Regions from separate parts of the Homo sapiens genome. Here all the other regions are linked to region 1. The links come from fine-mapping of genetic effects on gene expression. A gene starts in region 1. Each other region holds a variant in brackets. All regions are shown on one strand. Distances are from middle to middle.

What was found.
Region 2: its variant is fine-mapped to the expression of FOXK2 in whole blood (TOPMed, PIP 0.97).
Region 3: its variant is fine-mapped to the expression of FOXK2 in whole blood (TOPMed, PIP 0.94).

What each region holds. Positions count from the first base shown.
Region 1 is chr17:82,512,080-82,522,772 of GRCh38, reverse strand. FOXK2 (forkhead box K2) reads right to left here and starts at 3,041. Exons shown (of 9, transcript NM_004514.4): 1 at 2,466-3,041. The coding sequence starts at 2,884. RefSeq lists silencers at 2,202-2,251, 2,332-2,511, 2,962-3,621.
Region 2 is chr17:82,599,056-82,609,748 of GRCh38, reverse strand. FOXK2 (forkhead box K2) reads right to left here. Exons shown (of 9, transcript NM_004514.4): 9 at 5,147-8,446. The coding sequence ends at 8,250. Among named protein-coding and RNA genes, the nearest start is that of FOXK2-AS1, 16 kb to the right of the region's middle. RefSeq lists a silencer at 6,618-6,727 and an enhancer at 9,508-9,757. The variant C/A (reference allele first, on the strand shown) is at 7,125.
Region 3 is chr17:82,589,343-82,597,342 of GRCh38, reverse strand. All of the region lies in intron 8 of FOXK2 (forkhead box K2), which reads right to left. Among named protein-coding and RNA genes, the nearest start is that of FOXK2-AS1, 4.9 kb to the right of the region's middle. RefSeq lists silencers at 3,943-4,143, 5,256-5,550. The variant G/A (reference allele first, on the strand shown) is at 3,628.

The DNA of each region.
Region 1 (10,693 bases):
ACTTATCTCCATGTTTATCATGTTAGCATGTGCAGAATTCAATTCAATACAAATCGTTCTGGCTGAATGGTGAGGAGAATTTTCTTTAAAAACTCAAAATCGGGCCAGGCACAGTGGCTCATGCCTGTAATCGCAGCACTTTGGGAGGCCGAGGCGGGCAGATCATGAGGTCAGGAGATCGAGACCATCCTGGCTAGCATGGTGAAACCCCGTCTCTACTAAAAATACAAAAAAAAATTAGCTGGGCGTAGTGGCGGGTGCCTGTAGTCTCAGCTACTCGGGAGGCTGAGGCAGGAGAATGATGTGAACCCGGGAGGCATAGCTTGCAGTGAGCCGAGATTGCGCCACTGCACTCCAGCCTGGGGGACAGAGCAAGGCTCCGTCTCAGGAAAAAAAAAAAAAAATTCCAAAAAACTCAAAATCTTGGCCAGGTATGTGGGAGGAGTGGTGAGATCATAGCTCACACCTGTAATCCCAGCCTGGAATGCAGTGGTGCAATCATAGCTCACAGCAACTTCAAACTCCTGAGCACTGGGGCAGGAGGATCGCTTGTGCCCAGAAGTTTGAGGCTGCAGTGAGCTGTCATCATACCAGTACACTCCAGGCTAGGTCACAGAGACCGTGTCTCAAAATCAAAAACAAACAAACAAAAACTCAAGATCCTCACAGTAGACGCAAACTTCCTTTGTTGTGACACAGTATTTTGTAAAAAAAAAAAAAAAAAAAAAAAAGTCAGATTAAAGGGTAGCCATTAGGACCCTACCATTGATTTCATACCGTCTACAGTATAAACACACATAAATAGCATTTTCATTTGAAAATTTCTTTTTTTTTTTTGAGGCGGAGTCTTCCTCTGTCCCCCAGGCTGGAGTGCAGTGGTGCGATCTCGCTGGCTGCAAGCTCCACCTCCAGGGTTCACATTCTCCTGCCTCAGCCTCCTGAGTAGCTGGGACTACAGGCGCCCGCCACCGCGCCCGGCTAATTTTTTTTTTTTTTTTGTATTTTTAGTAGAGACGGGTTTCACCGTGTTAGCCAGAATGGTCTCGACCTCCTGACCTCGTGATCCACCCGCCTCGGCCTCCCAAAGTGCTGGGATTACAGGCGTGAGCCACCGCGCCCGGCCTGAAAATAACATTCTTTAAAATGCTACTACCAAAGTTTAAGGAATATGCTGGTGCACCTTTCCATGCTAAGAAACAGAACAGCGCATGCACACACACACAACACGCAAGTCAAGAAGAAAAGCAACAGCTCTTACCAGCATCTCCAACAACCGAAAGCGTTAAAAATTCCAATTTGTAGGCCGGGCGCGGTGGCTCACGCCTGTAATCCCAGCACTTTGGGAGGCCGAGGCGGGTGGATCACGAGGTCAGGAGTTCAATACCAGCCTGGCCAAGATGGTGAAACCCCGTCTCTACTAAAAATACAAAAAATTAGCCGGGCGCGGTGGCAGGCGCCTGTAATCCCAGCTACTCGGGAGGCTGGGGCAGGAGAACCACTTGAACTCAAAGGGCGGAGATTGCAGTGAGCCAAGATCGCGCCACTACACTCCAGCCTGAGCGACAAAGTGAGCCTCCGTCTCAAAAAACAAAAAACAAAAAAATTCCAGTTTGTGTGGACAAAGGCTGTACTTGCAATGATCTAGAAGTGAGCCCCTGAGGAATAATTAGCATTTCCTAGACAGCAAGTTTGTGTTTCAAGCAGAGTAAACGATAACTTCATAAAACCACAGGACCAAGCTAAATTGTTTTGTAGCAGGATAGGCAGTTCCCTATCAGGCTGACTTAACACTCTACATGACCTTGTAATAATTCCTAATCAACTGTCTTTTTGTAGAAGTTATGCGAAAAGCATCTAGTTTTCCCTAAATTTTAAGGTTCAGAGCACAGATTGAAAATCCATCATGCTTGAAGCGTCTTCCAATTTGGCCTACTGAAAACACGGCAGGGAAAAAGGAGTCCTTCCTGCTTAAAACACCGCACTCTTGAAACAGCTCACTACTGAAAACGACTGAACAACAACAACAACAAAAGACAACAGACAACCCTTCATCGGTTAAGAGACATAGATTTTAGTTCGGGGCAGTTCCTCCCACCGCACACCGTTTTCACATTTCTGTTCAGCGCGACCTCGCTGCAGAATAGAAACAGCACACGTGAACTCCCCGCACGCACAGAACCCAGAAACCTTGACCCGCGCGCGCAGCCGCCCGCAGCCCCGGCTCCAGGAAGGGGGAAAGACGGGGGGCTGCACCTGCCAGGAAGGGGACCGGGAGGACGGGGGTCGGGGCCAGGGGCTGTCGAGGGTTGGGATCCAGCCGGGGCCTGGGTCCCGCTGGTGGTCCCGGCTGTGGGAGAGTCGGGCCCCCGCTCGTGGGTGGTCCCGGGCCTGGGCGCGTGTCCCGTCCCGTCCTGCCAGGCGCTGCAGGCCGCAGACCCCGCCCGCCCCGCCCCGAGGCCACTCACACGCGCGGCAGCTGCAGCGGCGGCGCCCCGCGCCTCTGGAACACGCCGTCCACGAATACCCCGTTCTTGCCCAAGCAGCGCAGGTAGAAGTCGCCGCCGGCGTCGGGCCTGGGCTGCGCGGGCGGCAGCTCCGGAGCGGCCCCGCCATGGCCGCCGCCGCCCGGGGGCGTGAAGATCTCGAGGTGGCGCCGGGAGATGAAGCTCGAGTGGCCCATGCTCACGTCCACCGAGCCCTGCGACGAGTTGCGGCCGATGGTCACCGAGCGCTTCTTCATCAGATACTCGAACTCGCGGCCCTCCAGGCGCGCCACGGCCCAGCCGCCCGGCGGGGACCCGCCGCCCCCGGCCCCGCCGCCCCCGGCCCCGCCGCCCGCGGGTGGCGTGCCCGCGCCCGAGAGCGCCGCCGCGGCCGCCGCCATGGGCCTGCGTGAGGGCCCCCGGGCCGCTCCGCGCGGGCGCCGGTGGCGCGGGCCGAGGCCCAGGCCGCGCGGGTCGTCGGCCGCCGCGCACCGGAGCTGAGGGAGGGGGCCGAGCGGAGGCCGCCGGCCGGCGAGCGAGCGAGCGGCGGCGAGGGGCGGGAGCACGCGCGGCCGCGCCACCGAGCCGGCACGCCGGGCCCGCCCCTCGCTGACGGACGGTTACGCCGGCCAATGGGGGCGGCGTACGGCAGTGGGGCTACCGAAGCAGGCCAATGGCAAGACACGTCGCACCAAGCTGCCGGCACGTCCGGCGGCGACGCCCGACGCAGTCCCGACTCCGGGCGCCGCGGAAAACCCGGGGCGGACAGTCGGCAGCCCGCGCGGGATCGGGGCTGGCGCGGGGTTGGCGCGGGCGCGGGAGCTCGGGGGTCTGAGCCCGGCCTGGCAGCGCCTTAGGCGCGGCGGGCGGGACCAGGCCCAAGGTCACAGCGGGCGCCAGGCACGCAGCGGCCCCCAACCCGGCGTGGACGCCGGGGTGCGGATAGGCGGCGGCCCGCGAGCCCAGGCCCGGCCGCCGAGCGGCCTTTTCCCCGCGAGGTGCGGGAATATCGCGGAGGGGCCGCGTGCCGCGTGGCCTCAGACCCAGGGGACCCGGTGACACGTTCGTTTTTAACCAGCAGCTCCAGGACTGGATGTCGTTATCTTTCCTGGCTAGCGAGTCATGTCATTGTGTCAAAACTGTCCTGCAAAATACGCAGAAGTTCTGAATCACATTTACTTAACTGTCGTCAGCACACAGTTTAAAAATATACACGAGGCCGGGCGCGGTGGCTCACGCCTGTAAGCCCAGCACTTTGGGAGGCCGAGGCGAGCGGATCACCTGAGGTCAGGAGTTCGAGACCAGCCTAGCCAACATGGTGAAATCCCAGCTCTACTAAAAATACAAAAAAAAAAAAAAAAATAGCCGGGTGTGGTGGTGCACACCTGTAGTCCTAGCTACTCAGGAGGCTGAGGCAGGAGAATTGCTTAAACCTGGGAGGCGGAGGCAGGAGAATTGCTTCAACCTGGGAGGTGGAGGTTGCAGTAAGCCGAGATCGCGTCACTGCACTTCAGTCTGGGCAACAAGAGTGAAACTACGTCTCATATGTATATATATGAACTATATATATGTGAACTATATATATATATATGAACTATATATATATGAACTATATATATATGAACTATATATATGAACTATATACATATATGAACTATATATATATGAACTATATATATATGAACTCTCATGAACGAATAGTTAATATCTTAACCAATCTGATACTAAGTTTTTAAAAAAAGAATTTCGCCACCGTTTAAAAAATTACAAGATCCCATCTAAATCAAGATGATCAATAGTCCAGATGTTCACTAATCAATGAAACTCCTAACATTAAAAAGAAAAAATCCTGTGGCCGGGCGCGGTGGCTCACACCTGTAATCCCAGTGCTTTGGGAAGCCGAGGCGGGTGGATCACAAGGTCAGGAGTTCAAGACCAGCCTGCCCAACATAGTAAAAGCCCGTCTCTACTAAAAATACAAAAATTAGCCAGGCATGGTGGGGCGTGCCTGCAGTCCCAGCTACTTGGGAGGCTGAGGCAGTAGAATCGCTCGAACCTGGGAGGCGGAGGTTGTGGTGAGCAGACATCACGCCACTGCCCTCCAGCCTGGGTGACAGAGGAGACTCCGTCTCAAAAAAAAAAAAAAAAAAAAAAATTGGGAAAAGAAAGAAAAAATCCTGTAAATGTATCTCACGGGTACTTAACCAGTTGTGGAGACGTTCAAGGTTCAGGATCATGAAAAGTCTACAACCTCTTAAACAGGAAGAATTCCGTGGGAAGTCAGTGTCAGCCCTAGAAACCATGGCTTGGGCTCCAAGCGCGCATCTTCGCAAAACTGAAATAGCAACAAATGGTACCAATTTAGTCTCTGCTGGGGAGGGACTGCCCCCTGAATTGTCTCACTTCTTTCAGCATGGTGGTTCCTGCAGGGTGTGTGAGGAGAAGATCCTATTATAGCCTATATATACAGGTTATAGCAAACACCCCAGGGTTCCTCTATTTGCTGCTTGTTAAATAGCAAAGAACAATTAGAAGAGAGAAATGATATAATTTAGGTACAGAGGCCTGGCACGGTGGCTCATGACTGAATCCCAACACTTTGGGAGGCCGAGGTGGGTGGATCACTTGAGGTTAGAAGTTGGAGACCAGCCTGGCCAACATGGTGAATCCACATATCTACTAAAAATACAAATATTAGCTGGGTGTGGTGGCACGTGCCTATAATCCCAGCTACTTGAGAGGCTGAGGCAGGAGAATCGCTTAAACGCGGGAGGCGGAAATTGCAGTAAGCAAGCGGAGATTGCACCACTGCATTCCAGCCTGGGTGACAAAGCCAGACTCTGTCTCGAAAATAATCATCATCATCATAATGTAGGTACAAAAGGAGTTTAGTGTGAGTAGAAAGACTTGAGACTGGACTTAAACGGAGCAGGATAAAGTGGAGATCCTGAACAGGAACCACCAACTGGGGGCCCCAGGCAGGAGACATCAGGGTCAGTTCATGCATTTTTATTCCTTCAATGTGTAAAAACTTTTTCTAAAAGAAATGGAAATTAATGTGTCCCTCTGAATGTAACATTTACATGTCTTTTTTTTTTTTTTTTTTTTTTTTGAGTGGAGTTTTGCCCTTGTTGCCCAGGCTGGAGTGCAATGGTGCGATCTTGGCTCACTGCAACCTCCACCTCCCAGGTTCAAGTGATTCTCCTGCCTCAGCCTCCCAAGTAGCTGGGATTACAGGTGCTCACCACCACGCCTGGCTAATTTTGTATTTTTAGTAGACGAGGTTTCACCCTGTTGGCCAGGATTGTCTCGATCTATTGACCTCGTGATCCACTTGCCTGGGCCTCCCAAAGTGCTGGGATTACAGGCGTGAGCCACCATGCCCGACCTACATTTACATGTCTTAATTGCCATATATGTGTTTGTAATTATAGTACAAATTCCTACAGGTGCAAAGTGTTCTGGCAGGATTTCCTAGACAGAAAAAATTGTTTCATTAAATATTCACTTATATATTAGAGGAATTTTTTTTTCTTTTCCTTTTTTTTTTTTTTTTGAGACAGTCTCACCCTGTTGCCCAGGCTGGAGTGCGGTGGCCCAATCTCTACTCACTGTAACCTCCGCCTCCTGGGTTCAAGCGATTCTCCTGCCTCAGCCTCCCGAGTAGCTGGGATTACAGGCGTGTGCCACCACACCCAGCTAATTTTTATATTTTTAGTAGAGACGGGTTTTCACCATATTGGCCAGGCTGGTCTCGAACTCCTGACCTCCAGTGATCCGCCCGCCTTGGCCTCCCAAAGTGCCAGGATTACAGGTGTAAGCCACCGTGCCCGGCCATATTAGAGGGATTTTAGGGGACATTGAGATGACTATGGAAATGATAAATAGGAAGTGTATCATTTAACCAAAAAAAAAAAAAAAAAACAGGCCGGGTGTGGTGGCTCACACATGTAATCTCAGCACTTTTGGGAGGCCGAGGCAGGCGGATCACTAAAGGTCAGGAATTCAAGACCAGCCTGCCCAACATGGTGAAACCCTGTCTCTACTAAAAATACAAAAAATCAGCTGGGCGTGGTGGCGCATGCTTGTAATCCCAGCTACTCAGGAGGCTGAGGCAGGAGAATTGCTTTAACTAGGAGGCGGTGGTTGCGGTGAGCCAAGATCGTGCCACCGCACTCCAGCCTGGGTGACAGAGTGAGACTTTGTCTCAAAAAAAAAAGAAAAGAAAAAAAGAACAACAAAAAAAGATGGGCAGGCCAGGCATGGTGGCTCACACCTGTAATCCCAGCACTGTGGGAGGCCCAGGTGGGCAGATCACAAGGTCAATAGATGGAGACCATCCTGGCCAATATGGTGAAACCCCATCTCCACTAAAAATACAAAAATTGGCCGGGCACAGTGGTTCACGCCTGTAATCCCAGCACTTTGGGAGGCCGAGGCGGGCGGATCATGAGGTCAGGAGATCGAGGTCATCCTGGCTAACACGGTGAAACCTTGTCTCTTTTAAAAATACAAAAAATTAGCCGGGTGTGGTGGCAGGTGCCTGTAGTCCCAGCTACTTGGGAGGCTGAGGCAGGAGAATGGCGTGAACCTGGGAGGCGGAGCTTGCAGTGAGCTGAGATCTCACCACTGCACTCCAGCCTGGGCAACAAAGCAAGACTCTGTCTCAAACAAGAACAAAAACAAAAACAAAAATTAGGGCCAGGTGCAGTGGCTCACGCCTATAATTCCAGCACTTTGGGAGGCCGAGGCAGGCAGATCACCTGAGGTTGGGAGTTCAAGACCAGCCTGACCAACACAGAGAAACCCTGTCTGTACTAAAAATATACCGGGCGTGGTGGTGGGATTACAGGTGTGTGCACCACTATGCCCAGCTAATTTTTGAATTTTTTCAGAGATGGGGTTTTGCAATATTGCCCATGCTGGTGTCGAAGTCCTGAGCTCCGGCGATCCATCCGCCTCAGCCTCCTCAAGCGCTGGGATTACAGGGGTGAGCCACCGTGCCCAGCCTGTAAATTTTTATTAAGACCAAAAAATTGAATTACATTGGAGACATATCTTTTAATAACATGTCTGGAGCTTTTCCCCGCTGACAATTCACTCATGTATCCACTGATGAAAAGTGCTTATTGCTATAATGAGGCAGGTGTATATAAATATTATCCCTGTTATTTCATTAATGTATACATAGAAATAAATAGAACGAGAGGAAGTTTTATTACAACAACCTAACTCTGATTTTTGAACCTCTTTTGATTGCTGCTGTTACAAGGGAGTTGAAAAGCGATCGCAGAGGACACAGGACTGGGATACACGGCAGCAAAGGTAAAGCATCTTGGTCCAACCTGGGCACTCAGTTGAGACCCCAGAAAGGGAACACCTTAGGAGTAAGGGCTTTAGGATTAGGGGGTGTGTAAACTTTACTAGTGTTAAGTTCACCAGTATAAAGAAAAAGCTAAAATATATGAAATGGAGAATTTATCGAATTATCTAAACACCAAACTGGAAACAGCTGAAGACAAGATTTTTCATCTCAAAGTTACATCGGTTGAAATAATCTGAATCAAAATTCCAAGATAAAAAGAAAGAAGGAAAATGAGAAAAAAAGAAAACAGAAATGAATATTAGAGACCTGTGGGACAAGATCAAATGGTTGAATAAATGTGAAATTTGACTGCCAAGAAGTAGGGAGAAAGAAAATAGAGCAGAGGAAATATTTAAAGAGATAATATGTAAGAAGTTTATACATTGGTGAAAATATACCAACCCACAGATCCAAACAGCTCAGCAAACTCCCAAAAAGATACAGTCAAAGAAAAATACATAAAAGCATATCATAGTCCAACTGCTGAAAACCAACGATAATGAGAAAAGTCCTAAAAAGAGGCAGACTTTAAAAGGTACATTACATTCGGCCGGGCGCGGTGGCTCACGCCTATAATCCCAGCACTTTGGGAGGCCGAGGCGGGTGGATCACCTGAGGTCAGGAGTTCAAGACCAGCCTGACCAACATGGAAAAACCCTGTCTCTACTAAAAATACAAAATTAGCCGGGCCTGGTGGTGCATGCCTGTAATCCCAGCTATTTGGGAGGCTGAGACAGGAGAATCGCTTGAACCTGGGAGGCAGAGGTTGCAGTGAGCCGAGATCGCACCATTGCACTCCAGTCTGGTCAAAAAGAGGGAAACTCCGTCTGAAAAAAAAAAAGGTACAATACATTCATGGAGGCATCAATAAGAATGACAGCTGACTTCTCATCGAAAGCCATGGAAGCCAGAAAACAAAGAACTGACATCCGTAAAATGCTAAGAGTAAAACAAAGTCATTGAGATCAGAATTGAATATCTAACAAAAATGTTCTTCAAAAATTGGCTGGGCATGGCTGGGCGCGCCTGGGATTACGCCTGTAATCCCAGCACTTTGGGAGGCCAAGGCGGGTGGATCATGAGGTCAGGAGATAGAGGCCATCCTGGCTAACATGGTGAAACCCCGTCTCTACTAAAAACACACAAAAAAATTAGCCGGGCGTAGTGGTGGGTGCCTGTAGTCCCAGCTACTCGGGAGGCTGAGGCAGGAGAATGGTGTGAACCCAGGAGGCAGAGCTTGCAGTGAGCCGAGATCGCACCACTGAACTCCAGCCTGGGCAACAGTGCAAAACTCCATCTCAAAAATAAAAATAAAAAAAATTGGCTAGGCGCAGTGGCCTTTAATCCCAGCACTTTGGGAGGCCGAGGTGGGTGGATCACCTGAGGTCAAGAGTTCGAGACCAGCTTGCCCAACATGGTGAAACTCCATCTCTACTAAAAATACAAAAATTAGCCAGGCGTGGTGGTGCACACCTGTAACCCCAGCTATTTGGGAAGCTGAGGCAGGAGAATCACTTGAACCTGGGAGGCGGAGGTTGCAGTGAGCAGAGATTGTGCCACTGCACTCTAGTCTGGGCGACAAGAGCAAAACTCTGCCTCAAAAAAAATAAAAATTAAGGAAAGGTGGCCAGGTGCAGTGGCTCACTCCTGTAATCCTAGCACTTTGGGAGGCTGAGGTGAGAGGATCACCTAAGCTCAGGAGTTGAAGACCAGCCTGGGCAACATAGTGAGACCTCGTCTCTATTAAAAAGAAAAAAGAAAAAATTAAGGAACGGTAATGAAAGAAATTTTCAGATCAACAAAAGCTGAAAATTATCACCAGAAGATTCAGCCTTCAAAAAAATACTAACAGAAATTATTATATAATTTATTCCTTTTTTTGTTTTTTAATTTATTTTTTATCATGGAGTCTCGCTCTTGTCGCCCAGGCTGGAGTGCAATGGCATGATCTCGACTCACTGCAACCTCCGCCTCCCAGGTTCAAGCGATTCTCCTGCCTCAGCCTCCTGAGTAGCTGGGATTACAGGCACCTGCCACCACGCCTGGCTAATTTTTGTGTTTTTAGTAGAGACAGGGTTTCACCATGTTGGTCAGGCTGGTCTCAAACTCCTGACCTCGTGATCTGCCCGCCTCGGCCTCCCAAAGTGCTGGGAGTACAGGCATGAGCCACCGCACCCAGCCCTTTTATTTTTTTTTTGAGACAAGAGTCTCGCTCTGTTGCCCAGGCTGGAGTGCAGTGGCTCACTCGGCTGACTGCAAGCTCTGCCTCCTGGGTTCACGCCATTCTCCTGCGTCAGCCTCCCGTAGCTGGGACTACAGGCGCCTGCCACCACGCCCAGCTAATTTTTTTTTTGTATTTTTAGTAGAGACGGGGTTTCACCATGTTAGCCAGGATGGTCTCAATATCCTGACCTCGTGATCCGCTCGCCTCGGCCTCCCAAAGTGCTGGGATTACAGACGTGAGCCACTACACCTGGCCTATTTTTTATTTTTTATAGGGACGAGGTCTCACTATGTTGCCCAAGCTGGTCTAGAGTGATCCTTCCACCTTAGCCTCCCAAAGTGCTGGGATTACAGGCATGAGCCACCACGGCCAGCCAACAAACAGAAATGCTTCAGACCAGAGGAAAATGATCTCCAGTGGAATCCCAGTGCTGCACCAAGAAATAAAGAACGCCTGGGAAAGTGGCTATGTGGGTAACTATAAAAGAGTTTTGCTGTTGTTGTTGTTTTTGAGATGGAGTCTCGCTCTGTTGCCAGGCTGGAGTGCAGTGGTGCGATCTCAGTTCACTGCAACCTCTGCCTCCCGAGTTCAAGCAATTCTCCTGCCTCAGCCTCCCAAGTA
Region 2 (10,693 bases), 87 kb before region 1:
TGCTCGATGGTATCCCATAGGCCCCTTATTGTTCACTTTCCCTGCATTCTTCTTCTCTGCTGCTTAGACTGGGTAATTTCACTGACCTACCTTCAAGTTCACGGCTGCTTTCTGATGCCTGCTGAAATCCAAATTCCTTTAGTGAATTTCTTATGTTAGCTATTTTACTTTTCAGGCCTAGACTTTCTTTTTAGTCTCTTTTTATAATTTCTATTTTCTGCTATTTCCAAATGTTTCACACTGTTCATATTTCTTTCTTTTTGGGGCAGAGGGAGGGGCAGTGTCTGGCTCTACTGTTCAGGCTAAACTGCAGTGGTGTGATCACGGTGTACTGAGGCCTTAACTTCCCAGGTTCAAGCAATCTTCCCACCTGAACCTTCGGAGTAGCTGGGACCTCAGACACATGCCACCATGCCTAGCTGATTTTTTTTTTTTTTTGGTAGAGACAGAGTCCCACTATGTTGCCCAGCCTGGTCTTGAGCTCTTGGGCTCAAGCTGTCTCCCCATTTTAGCCTCCCAAAGTGCTGAGACTGTAGGCGTGAGCCACCACACCTGGCTTTGTTCTTATTTTACTTCTTTGTCCTGGTTCCCTTCAGCCCCTTGAGCATATTTAAGACAAAGTGTTTGTCTAGTAAGTCCAATTTCCAGGCTTCTTCAAGGATGGTTTCTGTCACTATGTCCCCTGCCCCAACCTCATGAATGGCTCATTGTTCTTATTCCTTTGTGTGTTTCGTTCTGTTCTGTTTTGAGACAGAGTTTCACTCTTGTCACCCAGGCTGGAGTGCAATGGCGAGGTCTCGGCTCACTGCAACCTCTGCCTCCTGGCTTCAAAGTGATTCTCCTGCCTCAGCCTCCTGAGTAGCTGGGATCACAGATGCGTGCCATCACACCTGGCTAGTTTTTGTATTTTTGGTAGAGATGGGGTTTCACCTTCTTGGCCAGGCTGGTCTTCAACTCCTGACCTCAGGTAATCCACCCACCTTGGCCTCCGAAAGTGCTGGGATTTCAGGCGTGAGCCACCACACCCAGCCTGTTTTCTATTTTTTTTTTTTTTTTTTTAATTAGAAGTGGCCAAGCATGGTGGCTCATGCTTGTAATCCCAGTACTTTGGGAGGCCAAGGCAGGAGAATAGCTTGAGTCCAGGAGTTCGAGACCATCCTGGGCAACATAGCAAGACCCGTCTCTACAAATAAAAAAAAGTTTTATTTTTTCCCCTCAATTTTGATTTCTTTTTTCAATTTTGTTGCCTGCTTGCTTTACATTTACTTTGTTGTTGTTGTTTTTGAGACGGAGTCTCGCTCTGTCACCCAGGCTGGAGTGCAGTGGTGCGATCTCAGCTCACTGCAAGCTACGCCTCCCGGGTTCACGCCATTCTCCTGCCTCAGCCTCCCAAGTAGCTGGGACTACAGGCACCCGCCACCACGCCCGGCTAATTTTTTGTATTTTTAGTAGAGACGGGGTTTCACCGTGTTAGCCAGGATGGTCTCGATCTCCTGACCTCGTGATCTGCCCACCTCGGCCTCCCCAAGTGCTGGGATTACGGGCGTGAGCCACTGCGCCCGGCCTCAGAATGCAATTTTTTTAATCTTTATTTTTGAATATTTGCAGTGTACTTTCCATTTCAGCATCCTTGTTTGTCTGTTTTTTGAGACAAGGTCTCACTCCCATTGCCCAAGCTGGAGTGTGGTGGTGCAGTCACGGCTCAGTCCAGTTTCAGCTTCCTGGGTTCAGGCGATCCTCCCGCCTGGGCCTCCTGAGTGGCTGGGACTACAGGTGCACACCACCACACTTGGTTTATTTTTAGTAGAGACAGGATTTTGCCAAGTTGCCTAGGCTGGTCTCCAACTCCTGGGCTCAAGTGAGCCTCCCACTTCGACCCCCCAAAGTGTTGGGATGAGACACTGTGCCCCGCCCTGCATTCCTAATTCAAAAATTTGAAGTCCAAAATGCTCCAATGAATATTTCCTTTGAGCATCGTGTCAACACTCAAAGTTTCGGATTTTAGATTACTGAGTTTTCAGATTAGGAATACTCAACCTGGATAAGTCAGTTTTCTTTGGCTGCTTTCCAGGTTAAAAAAAAAATGTCTTTTCTTTAGTTTATTGCCTCAACATGGTTTTCCTTGAGATGATCTTATTGGAATTCACTCACCTTCGTGAATCTTTAAAGTATTTATTAAAAAAAAAAAAAAAATATATATATATATATATACACACACACACATATATAGGCCAGGCGCGGTGGCTCACGCCTGTAATCACAGCACTTGGGGAGGCCGAGGCGGGCGGATCATGAGGTCAGGAGATCAAGACCATCCTGGCTAAGACGGTGAAACCCCGTCTCTACTAAAAATACAAAAAATTAGCCGGGCGTGGTGGTGGGTGCCTGTAGTCCCAGCTACTCCGGAGGCTGAGGCAGGAGAATCGCTTGAACCTGGGAGGCAGAGCTTGCAGTGAGCCGAGATCGTGCCACTGCACTCCAGCCTGGGCAACAGAGCGAGACTCCGTCTCAAAAAAATAAATAAATAAAAATAAATTAAAAAAATATATATATATGTATTTTTTTTTTTAAATGAGACAGTCTCGCTGTCGCCCAGGCTGGAGTGCAGTGGCGCAATCTGCGCTCACTGCAACCTCCGCCTCCTGGGCTCAAGCGATTCTCCTGCCTCAGTCTCCCGAGTAGCTGAGATTACAGGTGTGTGCCACCATGCCCGGCTAATTTTTGTATTTTTAGTAGAGATGCGGTTTCACCATGTAGGCCGGGCTGGTCTTGATCTCCTGACCTCGTGATCCACCCACCTCGGCCGCCCAAAGTGCTGGGATTACAGTCATGAGCCACCGCGCCCACCCGGACTAAAATATTTCTTTAAAAAAAATTGTATACGTTGTTTCTCTGTTTTATAGGAATCTAGTGACATACACAGTAGACCCTTCAATCTTGTCCTACAAGTCCCAGTTCATTTTTGTTTCCAAATGTTTTTCTGTTTATTCACTGAATTTTTTCATTTCTTTGATTCAAGAGCATTTGCCCTTATTTCACAGAGCATGGTTATAATAACTGTTCTTTATCTGATATTCCCAATATTTGGGTCATGTGAGAGTTGGCATTCGGTCTTTTCACTTTAGGGCAGAGATTTTTCTGGCTCTTTTTACGTTTAGTAATTTTGTATTCTAGACATTCGGCATACCTTGAGACTCCCAAGTCCATGAAACCCTCTGCAGGATGCTGAGTTGTGTCTCAGCAGGCAAGTAACCCAGTTATGTTCTGATTGCATGTGCCAGCCTGCCTCCTGGAGCTGTGACTCTGGTGTCAGGCTAGTCTTCCAAGTCTGTGTCGTGCTGTTCACCCAGGGGCCAGTCTACACAGGAGTTGAGCTCAAATAGCCTTTGCTGTTTTCCCCACGTCAGTGCCATTCATGTGGAGCTTTAGGGGGTCTCTTAACTCCTCTGCTGTGTCCTTTGACTTAAAAGCCCAGGTTTCAGCCTCTCTGTGCTGTTCCCATTCCTATGACTAGGTCCAGCTTGGGGCCAAAGTGGAGCAGGGATTTCCCTCATGCTCTTTGGACTACAGGGGCCTGTTTTCCAATTCCTCTCGTCAGCGTGAAGGGTTCTGTGGGAGTCGCCAGCGTGAAGGGCTCTGTGGGAGTCGCCAGTGTCTGCAGGGCTGCTGCTTGCAGGAGTTTCCCACGACCGTCTCTGCCCAGGATGAGAGGGAAGCGGGCTTCTCTTGGAGATTTTAATGTTCATCCCTAATGTGCAGTTCGGATAGACCGCCCCCGACTAGGCCCAGCAACGGACTAGGCTCAGCAATGGGAGGGGAAAACCCAGGAAAAACCCATCACACCGGTCCTTGTTCTGGCTCTAGTCTGCCTGCTGTTCTGTATTATATACGACTGACTTTCCATAGGACTGAGATAGTTGCTCTGTTTGTTAGGTCCACAGTTAGTCATAACCCCTAGGAGACACAGGTGGAGGAGTCCACTGGAATCTTTGTAGCCAGTTTAGTCATCAGAGGTCACTTGAGACCCACTCTGAATTGTAATTTTGTGTTGCTGTGGACATAGCTCAGAAAGGGGGCAACAAACAGTGACAATTTCCCAGCACCCATCAACGCAGCCCGGGTGCACTGCAGACGCAGACCTGGCAGAAACAAATTACAAATGACTGCTTCACTTTGCTGGAAGAGGCAGTCTCGCAGGGCGTGATAAACAGTTCTTTTATGCCAGTATGAACTGTTTTAAATTAGGGGATCAGTGTAAGGAATAAAACAAACACTCCGTTATGAACTCTCTGTCCGTGAACATCATTTAGCTCCCAAAGGCCTCTGTGTCATTTTCAGCACGGTTTCTTCCCTCTGCTACCCTGGGGTGAGTACTGATAATGTCATCACGATTCCAGACATTAGCGATCCACACCAGATTTTCAGGGCCTGAAGATCAAAGTGTTCCTGTGTGGGAACTTGAATACCCAAGTACCTCTTCAGAAGAGCTGCTTTTTCTTTTTTTCTGAGACGGAGTCTCGCTCTGCCGCCCAGGCTGGAGTGCAGTGGCGCAATCTCGGCTCACTGCAAACTCCACCTCCCAGGTTCACGCCATTCTCCTGCCTCAGCCTCCCGAGTAGCTGGGACTACAAGCGCCCGCCACTGCGCCCGGCTAATTTTTTTTGTATTTTTAGTAGAGATGGGATTTCACCATGTTAGCCAGGATGTTCTCAATCTCCTGACCTCATGATCTGCCCGTCTCGGCCTCCCAAAGTGCTGGGATGACAGGCATGAGCCACCGCGCCGGCCAAGAGCTGCTTTTTCATTTTCTGAGAAAATGTCCCTCAAGATGCTTTGCAGTGATCTTCATTCTCAGGTTGGAGAGAAAGTCTGCAGAAGAAATAGTGGCAGCCACAATCTCCAAGTAACTTTAAAACTCCGACATCATAGATCAATCAATCAAGACCCTGTTACCACTGCCTGTGACACGGCGCCTTTTCTACCTGCACGCTCAACCCGCTGTCCCACTGGCAGGGCCTGCAGTGCTGGTCCTCAGTGCAGCTCCCTGGTTAAGTTCTTGCCAATGCGCTAGGCCTCCGGTGTGCTCAGAAGAGAGCATGAAGTAAAAAGTCAGTCAATCAAAATGAAAATGATACTCTGCATTCCATTAAAATTAATAAAAATATTTTATTGAATTTCAGGAACTTGGTACTTTTTTAAAACTTCAAATCTTTGCACACAAATCACCACTATACTTTCTAGAATAGTGGAAGTTAGGACTTCAAGATTGTCACTTATCTCCTTGTGTCACACAGCACAGAAACCCCAAGTCCTCACACTGCCCCCACCCCCCTTCTGGCCATGACTACCAACTACTCTGTTATTCTAGCGGAGGACAATGACGGAAGTGGGTAGACGACTGAAGGAGATCAGCTGTCCACCGCGTACTCTACTAAAGTGAGAGGAGGAGCAACCGAGGATCATGCCGCACACACTCTGAGTGCACCACGTGACGTGGGTCATACGGGAGTTCCCTTTTGTTTTCTCGTTTGGTTCAGGGCAAAGCTACTGAAATTGTTCCTAGTCCCTGAGGAGCTCAGAAGTTGGGCAAAGGTCACAGCAGACTTCCTGAAAAGCAGACACTGAGGAACACAGTGGAGAGCGGGAGTTCACAGCGACGCAGCTGAGGACGACGCAGGACCTCTCCCAAAGGTGCTGCAGCTCCAGCACCAGGGGCCAGGGCTGCGGCGACAGCAGCTCAGCAACCCTTGCTGTGCTCAAGTTCTTGGGGATTCAGAGCTAAGTTCAAAATTTAGAAACAGTGCCTTAAAGACGGGCAAGAAAACCCGGTGTGGGAGTCTGCTCATCTATGGTTTGTTACTGCTCTCGCTTCGATATTCTTAAATTCCTAGGTACCAATGAAAAAGCCAAGTGAACGTGGCAGAGTGAGGAGGAGACAGGAGCGTGTGCACCTTCCATCTGTGAGAGGCACACTTCAGTCTGGGTTCAAGATGCAGAATGGTGCCTACGGCAAAAAAAAAAAAAAAAAACACCCTCCTCCCTTCTTTACCATTTGAATGGACATTTTCCTTACCTGTGATCCCAACAGAAACAGATCCAGACCTATCATGTGAAGTCCACGTTCCAGGATCAGAAGTAACCAGTTTATGGACTGAGCTTACACGGGAAAGTCTACCCCCGACTCCTTCTGGATAGTAACATACACAGCTGCATAAAAACGTCTCCAAGGGGACATACGATGCATTTGCTTGGTGTCCCAGCCAAGCTCCCCACCGGCGACCTCACTGTTCCTTAGAGCTCAAGAGCTCGTCTCCTATCAATCAGAGAACCCCATCAGCTGTGACCAACAGAGCTGGAGCCCTCTGTGGAGGGAGCTGACCCCACACACAGGACAGAGCAGAATCCTGATTATTTTACAAACTGCAAACCTTCTGAGTAAGAAGACAAAAATATACATTCCAAGGTATCTGTAAAGTGCTTGGAAGATGCAGACAGCTGCACCGAGGGGCTCTGATCCATCCACACGCTGCGCTTTGCTGCGGTCACACACACGGTCTCAGTCACGTGATGGTTTTGCTTTTATTTCTTAAACGGCTGAGTGATAATCCAGCTAGTGTGCAGTCATTTCATACCTTTCAATGGGCGTCACCGCAGTGACGCTGCCCCAGCCCCATGCTGAGGGCCGACACAATTCACGGAACAGATTCATCATATTTGGTCTTTATGTAAATAATAAATGTTTTAAAATTGCCTAAATATACCATTCTGAGCCATTTCATCCCTATTTCATCCCACCAGGAAAATACAGGTTTTTTCCTCTCTAAAAAAAAATTAAATACCAAAATAACTACATTTAAATAAATAATGTTATGATGATGACATTTAAAAGCTCAGCCATCAGGCTGACGCCCTCTCCCCATGTGCACGGCCCTCGGCCCTCGGCCGGCACACTCGGGAAGGGCCAGCGGTTTTCTTCCTGAGGAGCCGGGCGAGGAGGTGCAGGGACCTCCCACTCTCATTCCCTCACCCCCGTCCTGTCCTCATTTTCCGTAGAGGAGTCAGCCTCAGGATTGGGTTCGGTTCTGAAAGGTCAGGGACATTTCCTACCACAAAACAGGAAATGC[C/A]CCAGACGTGCCCTGCAGGACGTGGCTCGGACCCTGCTCCACCATGGCGGCCGCTCACCGAAGGTGGGGAGTAGACAGCAGGTCAGAGGCCGCCTAGAGCCGGAGGGACACCCCAAATACAAACATACCACGGAGAGACCTGGGATCTGAGTTTCAAAAGGGCCTGTGATAAAAGACTGAATCTTTTTCCAAATGAAGTAGAAATGGTTCTGTCGTTTTAAACATACACAATACTTAGGAGACTTGTTTTACTCAGAGTGGAAAATTTTGCCAGGGACAAAGTCAACACAAAGAAACAAACAACAAAAAATAGCCAGAAAGAGAACAGTTAAGTGCAGCTCGGTGAGTCCCGGCAGTTCCTTCCCGGCACTGGCTCGTCCCTGGGTTCTCAAGGTTCCATGCGGCCACAGCGTCCGTCCACCTGTCCACGCGAGCCACATGCTGAAATGGAGGTGGATAAAATTCATCAGGCAGCTGCTGTAACACGGAAATGTGCAGATGCCAGAGTAGCTTCGTCTGAACTTGAACAAGACAGACAAAAGGAAATCATTCCATAGGCTGAAAACAAAAACAAAACTACGTTGTTTCTTTGCCCCAAATGAAATCCACGGAAAGGGCCTGTGTGATTCTGAAAGTCTCAGTAGAAATGGAGTGATGTGAAATGCCCAAGACCCCATTATTTTGTAAAGAAAGGACACCTCAAAATACTCTAATTCCACATGTCTCCGCTGCCTGGTGGGTCCTGTGAGGGCGGCGGGGATGGCTCCCCCCGCGTCCTGAGGCCTAGTCTTGGGAGACCCACTCACAGCAGGCGCTGGCCGTGCCGTCCTCACACAGCGATGCCTGGTCCTCGCGGGAGGACAGAGTTTCACTCGTAGGTAGAAGCTCAGCCCAGCAGGTGCTCAGTGGAGACACCGTCTCCCAAATCAGGTTTTGTTGTGTGTGGGTTTTGTTCAAGTGTGACTTCTGTCTTTAAGGAGTGTTAAGGCCAGCTGGGTTTTGGGTTTTCAGTGCTGAGAGGTGAAGTCCAACCACAGGGCCCTGCACCCCCGAGTGCTGGCGGGAGGCCGCGTCTCCTTTTGGCACCACAGAGTTGATATCGTTAAAGAAAAGCTCTCCCGGTCGCTAGTTCTGGACACCCTTTTCCCTTACGGCTGCCGGTGGCGTGTCCACGCTCAGGGCAATGACGATGCCCTCGCCGTCTTCTGTCTTGATCCGCTTCAGCTCCGGCTGCTCCGGCTGGTCACCGTTGTGGCGCTTTGTGGGCAGGGAGGCCGATGCGGATGCGTGTGTTGCCAACATGTGCAAAGGACTCGCCGCGGCTGAAATGACACGAGGGAGTCAGAACCCCACGCTCTCACGTGAACCCTCGCGACTCAGAACCCCACGCTCTCACGTGAACCCTCGCGAGTCAGAACCCCACGCTCTCATGTGAACTCTCGCCCTCTAAGGGTCCTGCCACTCCCAGGCCCGCGGAGGCTCCCACAAGACCCCAGGGACTGGCCCACGGTGGCCAAGGGCACAGGAGCCTGGGCTGGGCCCTTGGGACCCCAAAAAACTGCAGCAAGTGAACTGCCTGATTAGCGGACATTTTTATTAACAGCTGGCATCATCTTTGTTATGTCCTATAAATAGGCTATTTTGATGTCACTGCTGGGGGAGAAAGGCTGAGTCCAGTAGTGGTTGAGGCAGACAGGAGATGGCCCTGCTGGCTCGGCGAAGGAGTGGCTGCCGCTCGCTGCTCTCCCTCATGCGGAGGCCCTGCCCTCGCCCCCCCACCACCCGCACAAGATGCTCCTGGACCATTTCCACACAGAAGGGAGCGGGGCTCCATCTGTCCCATAGGAGAGAAGCACCACAGTTTCTCATGGATGCTGCTCACCTGTGTCCTGGGTCAGTCCACAGAGGTGTGTGGGCAGAACAGAGACTGCTGGCTGCTAACGGCTGACCAGGCTGAGTTAATTCCAAAGGCCAAGCTTCCAACTAACATGCGATGGGTAATGTTATGTGCCAGCCTGGCTGAGCCACAGTGCCCAGATTTTGGTCAACCATTAATCTGGATGTTTCTGTATAGTTACTTCTTTAGATGAAATTAACATTTAAATCAGTCAGCTCTGAGTAAATCAGCTGATCGCCATGAGTGGGTGGGCCTCATCCAATCAGGTGAAGGACTAAGAAAAGACTGAGGTCCTCTGAGGGGAGCACTCTGCCCTGGATGGCCTCTGGACTCTTGAGAATCCAGCACTGACTCTTTCCCCGGGGTTCGGTCCACCCTGCAGATGCTGAGCTTGGCAGGCCCCACAACAGAGTGGGCAGATTCCACAGAATCTGTCTCCAGGCCGCCGCCTTGGCTCTGTTTCTCTGGGGCACCCTCACCTACCAGGTGCCATCAGGACCCCACCATCTCCAGCTTCCGGCACAGGCCAGTCCTCCTTGTGGGCGGCGGCATTTCTGGAAGACGCTGTCACCTCCCCAGGGGGCACTTCTTGGTGGGCCCCGTGATGCTCTGAGAAGCAGGTCCTAGGCCCCTAGGCTGCGCACACACCAGCCACTGCACTTCTCTAACCCAAGACCAACTCAGAGCACCCCAGGGTGGGAGCAGGAACACACCCCTGGGAGGCCCCAAAGCAGCTGTGCAGCAACCACTTCAGGCTGTCCCAGGAGGCTCAGAGCAGACACGCCTACAGGGCAGTACCTGAACCCAACCACAAACACAGCACACATGGTACGCTACGCCCTGGTGCCTAGAGATGTGGGAGGGGGACTTGCCCACCTGTCCGTCAAGGGCCAGCCCTCTCAGACCACAGGCCCTGGCGTGGGCAATACCCGCCTCCTACTCGCAGTCCCCTGCAGGGACGCTGGCTGGTCAGAGACCGACCTCCGCCCCCAGGTCTTCCCTAGCGGAGCGGATGTGAGTCCGGCCAGGTGCGTGGTCAGCTCCTCATGGCCAGATAGCCGGGGCAGCCACGAAGAGCGGGAGTCAACACTGGGCTCCGAAGAGACTCAAGCAGCAAACGGGGACCCAGTGACATCGGGTCAGCCGTGAGAGCCCCGTTTTAGAATTCAGGACATAGCCCTGAGGCCACAGAGGTGTGTTCCCTGGAAGCCAAACCCCTGTCAACAGTGTGGATGTGTGACTTTATCGTGTTCCCTTCTCCTTTCCACCTCTGAGCAACAGAAATAGCAGAGGACCAATTTACACATAAAACATGAACAAGAGGCCAGGTGCGGTGGCTCACGCCTGTAATCCCAGCACTTTGGAAGGCTGAGGCGAGAGGATCACCTGAGGTTACGAGTTCAAGACCAGTCTCGAACTGGCCAGCATGGTGAAACACCATCTCTACTAAAAATACAAAAACATTAGCCGGGCAAGGTGGTGGGGGCCTATAGTCCCAACTACTCGGGAGGCTGAGGCAGGAGAATCACTTGAACCCAGGAGGCGGAGGCTGCAGTGAACTGAGATCGTGCCATTGCACTCCAGTCTGGGGGACAAAGAAATTCCGTCTCAAAAAAAAAAAAAAAAAAAAGAAGCTGCTCAGCTTCCAGAAAGCACGGCTGCCACAAAGCAG
Region 3 (8,000 bases), 76 kb before region 1:
ACACACACACGAGTTGGGCACATGCTCCTGATGAGGCCCACACGTGCTCTCTTGGGAAGGCACTGACTCTGTTGATCTAAAGATGCTGAATAAGGCAGAAGGGTCTGTGCAGCGAGCACTGCAAACTCTGGTTTGCACCGAGGACCACATGGTGCCAGGAAGGACCATCCTGGACAAGGAGTGTGATGTATGAGCACCTCGGGCCCACGTGACCTGTGTCGACACGGGTGTGTTACAGGGAGTCACGGCTTAGCGCGTGGGGCCTGGAGGCGACCCTGCCCCTGGGCACACCCAGAGGCGCCGCCGCCTTCACCAGCCCCTGCCCCTCACCGGCTGAACTCGTAGACAGGCTTGCTCTGTGTTCCGTGAGAGCTCTGAGCACAAGGGGCTCTCGCCACGCCTGACAACCCGGGGACTGTAACTTGGAGCAGCACTTCAGCAAGCCCGGGAGGACTACAGGAATTTCCTACCATGAAATGGAACCTGAAGTAGGTGAGAAGATGGGGAGGGGGTGGTCTGTGGAATAAAACAAACGTGAAATCAAGGAGATCGGCAGAGATCAAAGAAAGAGGGGCTCCGCCAGCTCTGCCACACACTCTGGATTCAACACCGTCCCAATCAAGACGCCAGCAGGCTTGGTGTAGGAATCCTACAGTTCACGCGGAAATGCCAAGGACCTAGAATGGCTGAAGCGATTTTTAAAAAGAACAAAGTTGGAGGAGCGACACCTCCTTAGTGGGAGACTTGATGAGGCTGCAGGAGCTGGGCAGGGAGCCCTGCCACACAGACTGCCCGCAGAAAGTGCGTCTGGAAACAGTCCCCACGTGTGCGCGGTCCCGGGGCGTGACGAGGGCACCAGGGCAACCGGTGGGGCAGGCACGTCCTGACGCCACCTCTGAGGCTCCCCCTACACCAAGCTCTGAGGCTCCCCCTACACCAAGCTCTGAGGCTCCCCCTACACCAAGCTCTGAGGGTCCCCCTACACCAAGCATGGAAAACACAGCAGGAACGATGAGAAGGGAACAAGCAGCCACCAAGAATCTGGGCAAGGAACGTGTTCCAGAATTAAGGCGTCAGCGAACAACTGCCCTAGTAACGTGAAAGAAAAAGAAGAAGGGACTCAGGCTACTGAAGGCGAAGCAGGAACTGACCTGCAGTTGGTGTGAGCTGGGCAAACCCCGTGACCACCTCAGATGCTCCTCCCTGCAATCGCGGTCGCAGTCTGTGGCCGCAGGTGTGGCCTCAACCGACTCTAATGTGTCTACAAAAAATGTGCAGACAGCCGGGGCCACTGCGGTAGGCCAGAGATGCACAGACGCGCAGTGTGACTCTGGTTTCCAGTGGCCTTTCTCCTACGCTGACTCGGAACAGCATCCACGCTGTAGGTGTCTCTGGACAACCTTCCACCTGTCGTTTCTCATCCCAGGTTCCGGGCTGCCGGAAAAGGCTTTGCTCTTGTCTCCAGAAGCACCTGCTGGTCTGTCTGGATGGGGCCTGCTGTGTCAACTGAGGCAACTCCAGTCTGAGCTGGCACATGGGGGCCTTCTGAGGCCAAGGGGCCCTGGGGAGAGGAGTGGGAAAGGACCCCAAGTCACAGGAGCCAGGTGCACTTTTAGGGCCCAGGGAATAGTGACACAGGCTTAATAACAGGGACCGACCCCACTGTTAGAGCTTTCAACGAAGAAAAACCGTGACCACATGTATAGCACTCTGTCCTCTCCAGTTCAAACACAAGGAGAAGGCTGGGCGCGGTGGCTCACACCTGTAGTCCCAGCATTTGGGGAGGCAGAGGCGAGAGAATCACTTGAACCTAGGAGTTTGAGACCAGCCTGAGCAGCACGGTAAGACCCCATCTCTACAAAAGAAAAAAAATATTAGCTGGACATGTTTGTACGTGCCTGTAGTCCTGGCTACTCAGGAGGCTGAGGCAGGAGAATCACTTGAGCCCACGAGTTCAAGGCTGCACTGAGCTGTGATCACGCCACTGCACTCCAGTCTGAGTGACAGACCCTTTCTCAAAAAACAAGACAAAAGCCGTAGAACCTGAAAACCAGGCAAGACAGGCCACTTACCTTGTGACACCTCCACTATTACCTGTCACAAGGAAAGGACGACCTAATGGGAATCTGTTTACAGAGCTGTACAAAGTCTTAGAGAAACAAGCAAATTACCCCTGCCCCACGGCACACCAAACCCTGCTGCATCCCACGTTGCCCCCATGGTTAGAACTTGCCTATCCACAAAATGCTGTCAAAGACAATGTATGCCGGCTTGCGTTTCTATTCCTCCATTTACTTACTATGTGGAGAGGGTCTCACCCTGTCTCCCAGGATGGAGTGCAGTGGGGCGATCACGGTTCACTGCAGCCTCAACCTCCCTGGCTCAAACGATCTCCCTGCCTTAGCCTCTTGGTGGCTGGGACTACAGGTGCTGCCGCCACAGCCACTTTTGTGATTTTTTGTAGACACAGAGATTCACCATGTTGTCCAGGCTGGTCTTGAACTCCTGGGCACAAGCAGTCTGCCCACCCTGGTCTTCCAAAGTGCTGGGATTGCAGGCGTGAGCCACGGCGCCCAGCTGTTCCTACTCCTTTAGGGAAAGAACTAAGTTCCTCTGCGAGTCCATCTACAGAGACGGGCTCCGCTGCTGCCTACTCCAATCTGCAGACACTCACAAGGGGACGTTCCCCACCCTGAGGGTCCTCACTGATTCAGAGGGCGGCTTTTGGAAAGATGACTGCGGAGATGCATTCACATTTTTGGCCTTCCATGCACACTAATCCTCCCCACATAAATTCCAATATTTTCAAACTGAAGTGTCTGGAGCATTTTTTTTTTTTTTTTTTTTGAGACAGTCTCGCTCTGTCGCCCAGGCGGGAGTGCAGTGGCGCGATCTCAGCTCACTGCAAGCTCCACCTCCCGGGTTCATGCCATTCTCCTGCCTCAGCCTCCCGAATAGCTGGGACTACAGGCGCCCGCCACCATGTCCAGCTAATTTTTTGTATTTTTGGTGGAGACAGGGTTTCACCGTGTTAGCCAGGATGGTCTCAATCTCCTGACCTCGTGATCCGCCCGCCTCGGCCTCCCAAAGTGCTGGGATGACAGGTGTGAGCCGCCGTGCCCGGCCTGTCTAGAGCATTTCTTAGCGGCCAACTTTTACTCCACAGGCAACCTACGTCATAACACTTGACAACACCCCAGTTGTGGGCTGTGTGGGTACTACACGCAGCAAGCCCCTCCGAGACCTCCAGGAAGCATCAGAAGACCCTATACTGTGGACAGAGACGCCGGAGCAGCTCAGACACGAGAGCAGCTGCTCCACTGCCACCGCCACAGCGATGATGGGTGCGGCTCCCGCAGAACACAGGCCCCGACCCGAGGCCTCGCACCTCCTCGTCCGCGTGGCCTGATCCCGCTGCTCTGGGGCTGTCAATCCAGTGGCGGCAGCTGCTGCTCTGCCTGGAAAGGCTCCGCTTTGAGGCTGGGTGTGAAAGACGTCCAGGGACCCTCAGACGTCACTGCCGTTTTACATGCTCACAACGCAACACCCATCGTCACTGTGGGACCAGCTAGGGATACCCACATCATCAAATCCTCACCCCAAATCTGGCTGCCAGATCCCCACCGA[G/A]GCACGCGTGAGCACCTGGCGGCCACAAGGGACCCGCAGCCTCAGCCCGGCTCCCCTGTGTCCTGCTCTGTGCCGATGCACTGCTCCCTCTGCAAGGGTCCTTGTGAGGGACATGGGACCGTAATTCCTCTGTGGGGCCGGGAGCCAGAAGGCTCGGAAGGCCCACACTCTCCCAGGTATGTGGCCTGCAGGCGTGGGGCTATAGCCGTCCAGCCAGCTGATCCTGGCACAGGCACCCGCACAGCACGCGGTGAACAGGGCTGGGCTCCGCCAGGGGGGCGCGGGGCTTCATCTACCTTCCTCTGTGCCTATCGCTCTCCTTTCCTTCCTTCCTCTTTCCCTCCCTCCCTCCCTCCCTCCTTCCTTCCTTCCAGAAACTGCTGCGTACCCTTTCAGAATAAGAGCCTGTGCCCGGTACAGGGAGACCTTCACAGGGTCTGCTTTCAGAATAAGAGCCTCTGCCTGGCACAGGGAGACCTTCACTGGGTCTGCTTTCAGAATAAGAGCCTCTGCCTGGCACAGGGAGACCTTCACTGGGTCTGCTTTCAGAATAAGAGCCTGTGCCCGGTGCAGGGAGACCTTCACGGGGTCTGCTTTCAGAATAAGAGCCTGTGCCCGGCGCAGGGAGACCTTCACTGGGTCTTTCAGAATAAGAGCCTGTGCCCGGTACAGGAAGACCTTCACGGGGTCTGCTTTCAGAATAAGAGCCTCTGCCCGGTACAGGGAGACCTTCACTGGGTCTGCTTTCAGAATAAGAGCCTGTGCCCGGCGCAGGGAGACCTTCACAGGGTCTACTTTCAGAATAAGAGCCTGTGCCCGGCACAGGGAGACCTTCACGGGGTCTGCTTTCAGAATAAGAGCCTGTGCCTGGCACAGGGAGACCTTCACAGGGTCTCCCTCTGCCAGCGCGAACTGGGCATTTCACTCTCACTGCGAAGCGTGCGCCCTCACACCAGGCGCCACAGCTGAGATGCAGAGAACCCCAGCCAGCTTGAGGAGATGCCCCAGGAAACACTGGAGTCAACAAATGATATTTGAGGACCACGTAACTGCTACACAAGGAAGAAGAGCAGAGTTAGGCAGGAGGGAGCAAACGATCAAGGCAGGAACAATGTTAACGAAAGAAGCGAAAGGCAGGGCCTGAGGAGAATGTCGCAGGGTGAAGCAGCAGCAAAGCCCAGGCTTCCCAGCAGGGCTGGTCAGGCAGGCCTGTCCAGACAGGGAGTGGCCCCGTGAAGGGCCTCATGAGGTTCCTCCACTGTGAGGCTTGAGCTGTGGCAACACCTTCCACTGACAGTGATCTGTGAACCCTTAAGAAGGTGACAGAAAGAAAACAAGAGGACACACATGTGAGCCCCATGAAGGACCAGGACAGTAGAGAGGCCGGAGGAGTCAATATGTGAGCCAAGAGATGCTCCAGGACCGCAGCTCAGCCCAGGAGCACACTGAGCAGGCGAGGCCCTGGCCAAACACAGCTCAGCCCCGAACTCCCAAATCAAAACGACAACACTGGCTGGGTATGCTGGCTCGTACCTGTAATCCCAGCACTTTGGGAGGCCAAGGCTAGAGGATCACCAGAGTCCAGGAGTTTGAAACCAGCCTGGGCAACATAGTGAGACCCTGTCTCTACAAAAAATACAAAAACTTAGCTGGATGTGGTGCTGCACACCTGTAGTCCCAGCTACTTGGGAGGCTGAGGCAGGAGGATGGCTTGAGACCAGTAGGTCGGGGCTGCAGTGAGTTGAGATCTCGGCACTGCACTCCAGCCTGGGTGACAGAGCAAGACAGTATCTCAAAACAACAGCAGCAAAGATGAAGTCATTGACAAAAACACAACCACAGTTGTGCCAGTAAACCAGAAACAGCGCCTGCAGCCCAGAGACAGGAGATGAGCTTTGGAAACAGGAAGCAGAAGGGCCTGTGGTGTGGACGGCGGCACCCGCAGCCCTGAGGCAGGGGTCTCCCAAAGCGAGCTCTGAGGGTGCTTGTACACAGCACGTGTGATGGGAGGAAGTGAATATGCAAGAGCTTGGGCGCCTGGACTCTTCCCACATCTCCCTGCCAGGGAGACTTGGGAGCGTTTCCAGAAAATGCCAGGCTTTCCTTTCCATGTACTCAAAAAGGGGAGGCCTCAAGCCCTCCCCACACTCTGGAACAAGCTTGGAGCAGTTTCTTGGTGCCAGGCACATTTCTGGGGCTTCCCTTCCTGTAAGAGGAAGCCTCCCGGCTTCCATCTCCTCCAGGCCTTCTCCATGGGGCGGCAGCATGATGCACCCCAGCTCTGCACAGGGTTTGGGGCCCTGGAGCAGAGCAGGGGACACAGGAGCATTGGCAGGTGGGCAGGGTGTGGACAACGGCGACAACGGGACCAGGGGCCACCCTGGTGAACCTGACAGGCCAGGGATGGGCTCGCCTGTGTTTGAATGAGGCCTCCATGGAGACCCCTATGGAAGCAGGAATGAGGGTACACTCCAGCTGGAGCGACAACCCCAGAGTCACCTTCCAGGAAGACACTGGCAGCTCATGCCCTGCGCCTGCCCACGGAACTCACCTATCATCCCACCAAGCCACCTGCTGTCCTGCAAGGCCAGGGCTACAGTGCATGGCCGGAACATCCTGACCCCTCGTCCTGTCAGCCCCACCTCCCATCTGTCAGCACTGTCTTCACGACACACGCAGGGGCCAAGCCCTGAGCCCCGGGTCCCACAGCAGCTGGTGGCAGAGGCAGAACCGGCCCAGGCTGCCCTTGGGGCCAGGGTGAGGATGGAACCCCCTTAGGGCAGGCAGCCCAGCCTCGGCCTATCTGCTCGTGGTGCTGAGCCCTCTGGTACCCCTGGGAGAGTCTCAGGCAGCCTGTGCAGTCCCTCCCTGCACAGGACATTCTAACCCCATGCTTGGGTCAGAAAACTCGGCCACATCCACATAATTCCTCAGTAAAAATACTACATTTTCCTTGGGGTAATACACTACACTACAATTTAGTATAAACATAATTGCTTAATATAGTAGGAACCCAAAAATTTCATGTGACTGGCAGCTCTACTGCAATATTCATTTTTTTGCAGTGGTCTGGAACCAACCCTGCAATGTCTCTGAGTTACACCTACATGTCTGAAAAGGCCTGAAATCTCTACATATGAATAAAGAACTACAAATTTCACAACAAAAAGACAACCCAATTAAATGATGGGCAAAGGACTTAAAAAAAATTTCTTCAAAGAAGATACACAAATAACCATAAAGTACATGAAAAGACGTGCTGGCCAGAGGCGGTGGCTCACCCTGTCATCTCAGCACGTTGGGAGGCCGAGGTGGGCAGACTGCTTGAGCCCCGGAGCTTGAGACCAGCATGGGCAACATGGTGAGACACTACCTCCCAAATAAAAAATAAAAGACTACAAGAGGCCAAAATTATGAGCACCTGTGCAGTGGTTCTCATCCTAGGTGTTCAGCATCCAGGCTGTAGCCGACACTGTTTTAAGGAAAATCATTTCCAGAATCTCCTCTTGGTCCTGAAGTCTTTTCTTAAAGCCCATCTGCCACCTCCTCTCTCTGAACAGCCTCTCTCATCTGCTCAACTGGGCACTGGCTTTGGGGATGAAAACTATGGGATGGAGCATGAAAGCAATAATAGGAAATACTGGTGCTGACAAGACTTTTTTTTTTTTTTGAGATGGAGTCTCGCTGTGTTGCCCAGGCTGGAGTGCAGTGGTCTGAACTCGGCTCACTGCAACCTCCATCTCCCAGGTTCAAGCGATTCTCCTGCCTCAGCGTCCAGAGTAGCAGGGATTACAGGAATGTGCCACCACACCCGGCTAATCTTTGTAGTTTTAGTAGAGACGGAGTTTCACCATGTTGGCCAGGCTGGTCTCCAACTCCTGATCTCAAGTGATCCGCCCACCTCCACCTCCCAAAGTGCTGGGATTACAGGCGTGAGCCACCACACCCAGCCAAGATCACTGACAGACTTTCACGTTCATCTGGAAACAGGCCCTCAGTGCTGACACTGTCCTCTCCTTCCTGAGTGGAAACAGGCCCTCAGTGCTGACACTGTCCTCTCCTTCCTGAGTGGAAACAGGCCCTCAGTGCTGACACTGTCCTCTCCTTCCTGAGTGGAAACAGGCCCTCAGTGTTGACACTAGGACTGTGCAACCATCAGTGAATACAGAACGAATCAGGTGGTTTCCTTTAAAGCTAAATACACTAAGAAAGGCATCTTCAGTAACATTTTAATTTTTGGTTTTATAAGAATTTGTTATATTTTTGGGTTTTATCAATTTTGTTACTCATAGACAAACTTTAATATTTATATCTATATTTTATTGCTGCAGAGAAAAGATATGACTAATAAATGACATTTAAGCCTAAAGTAT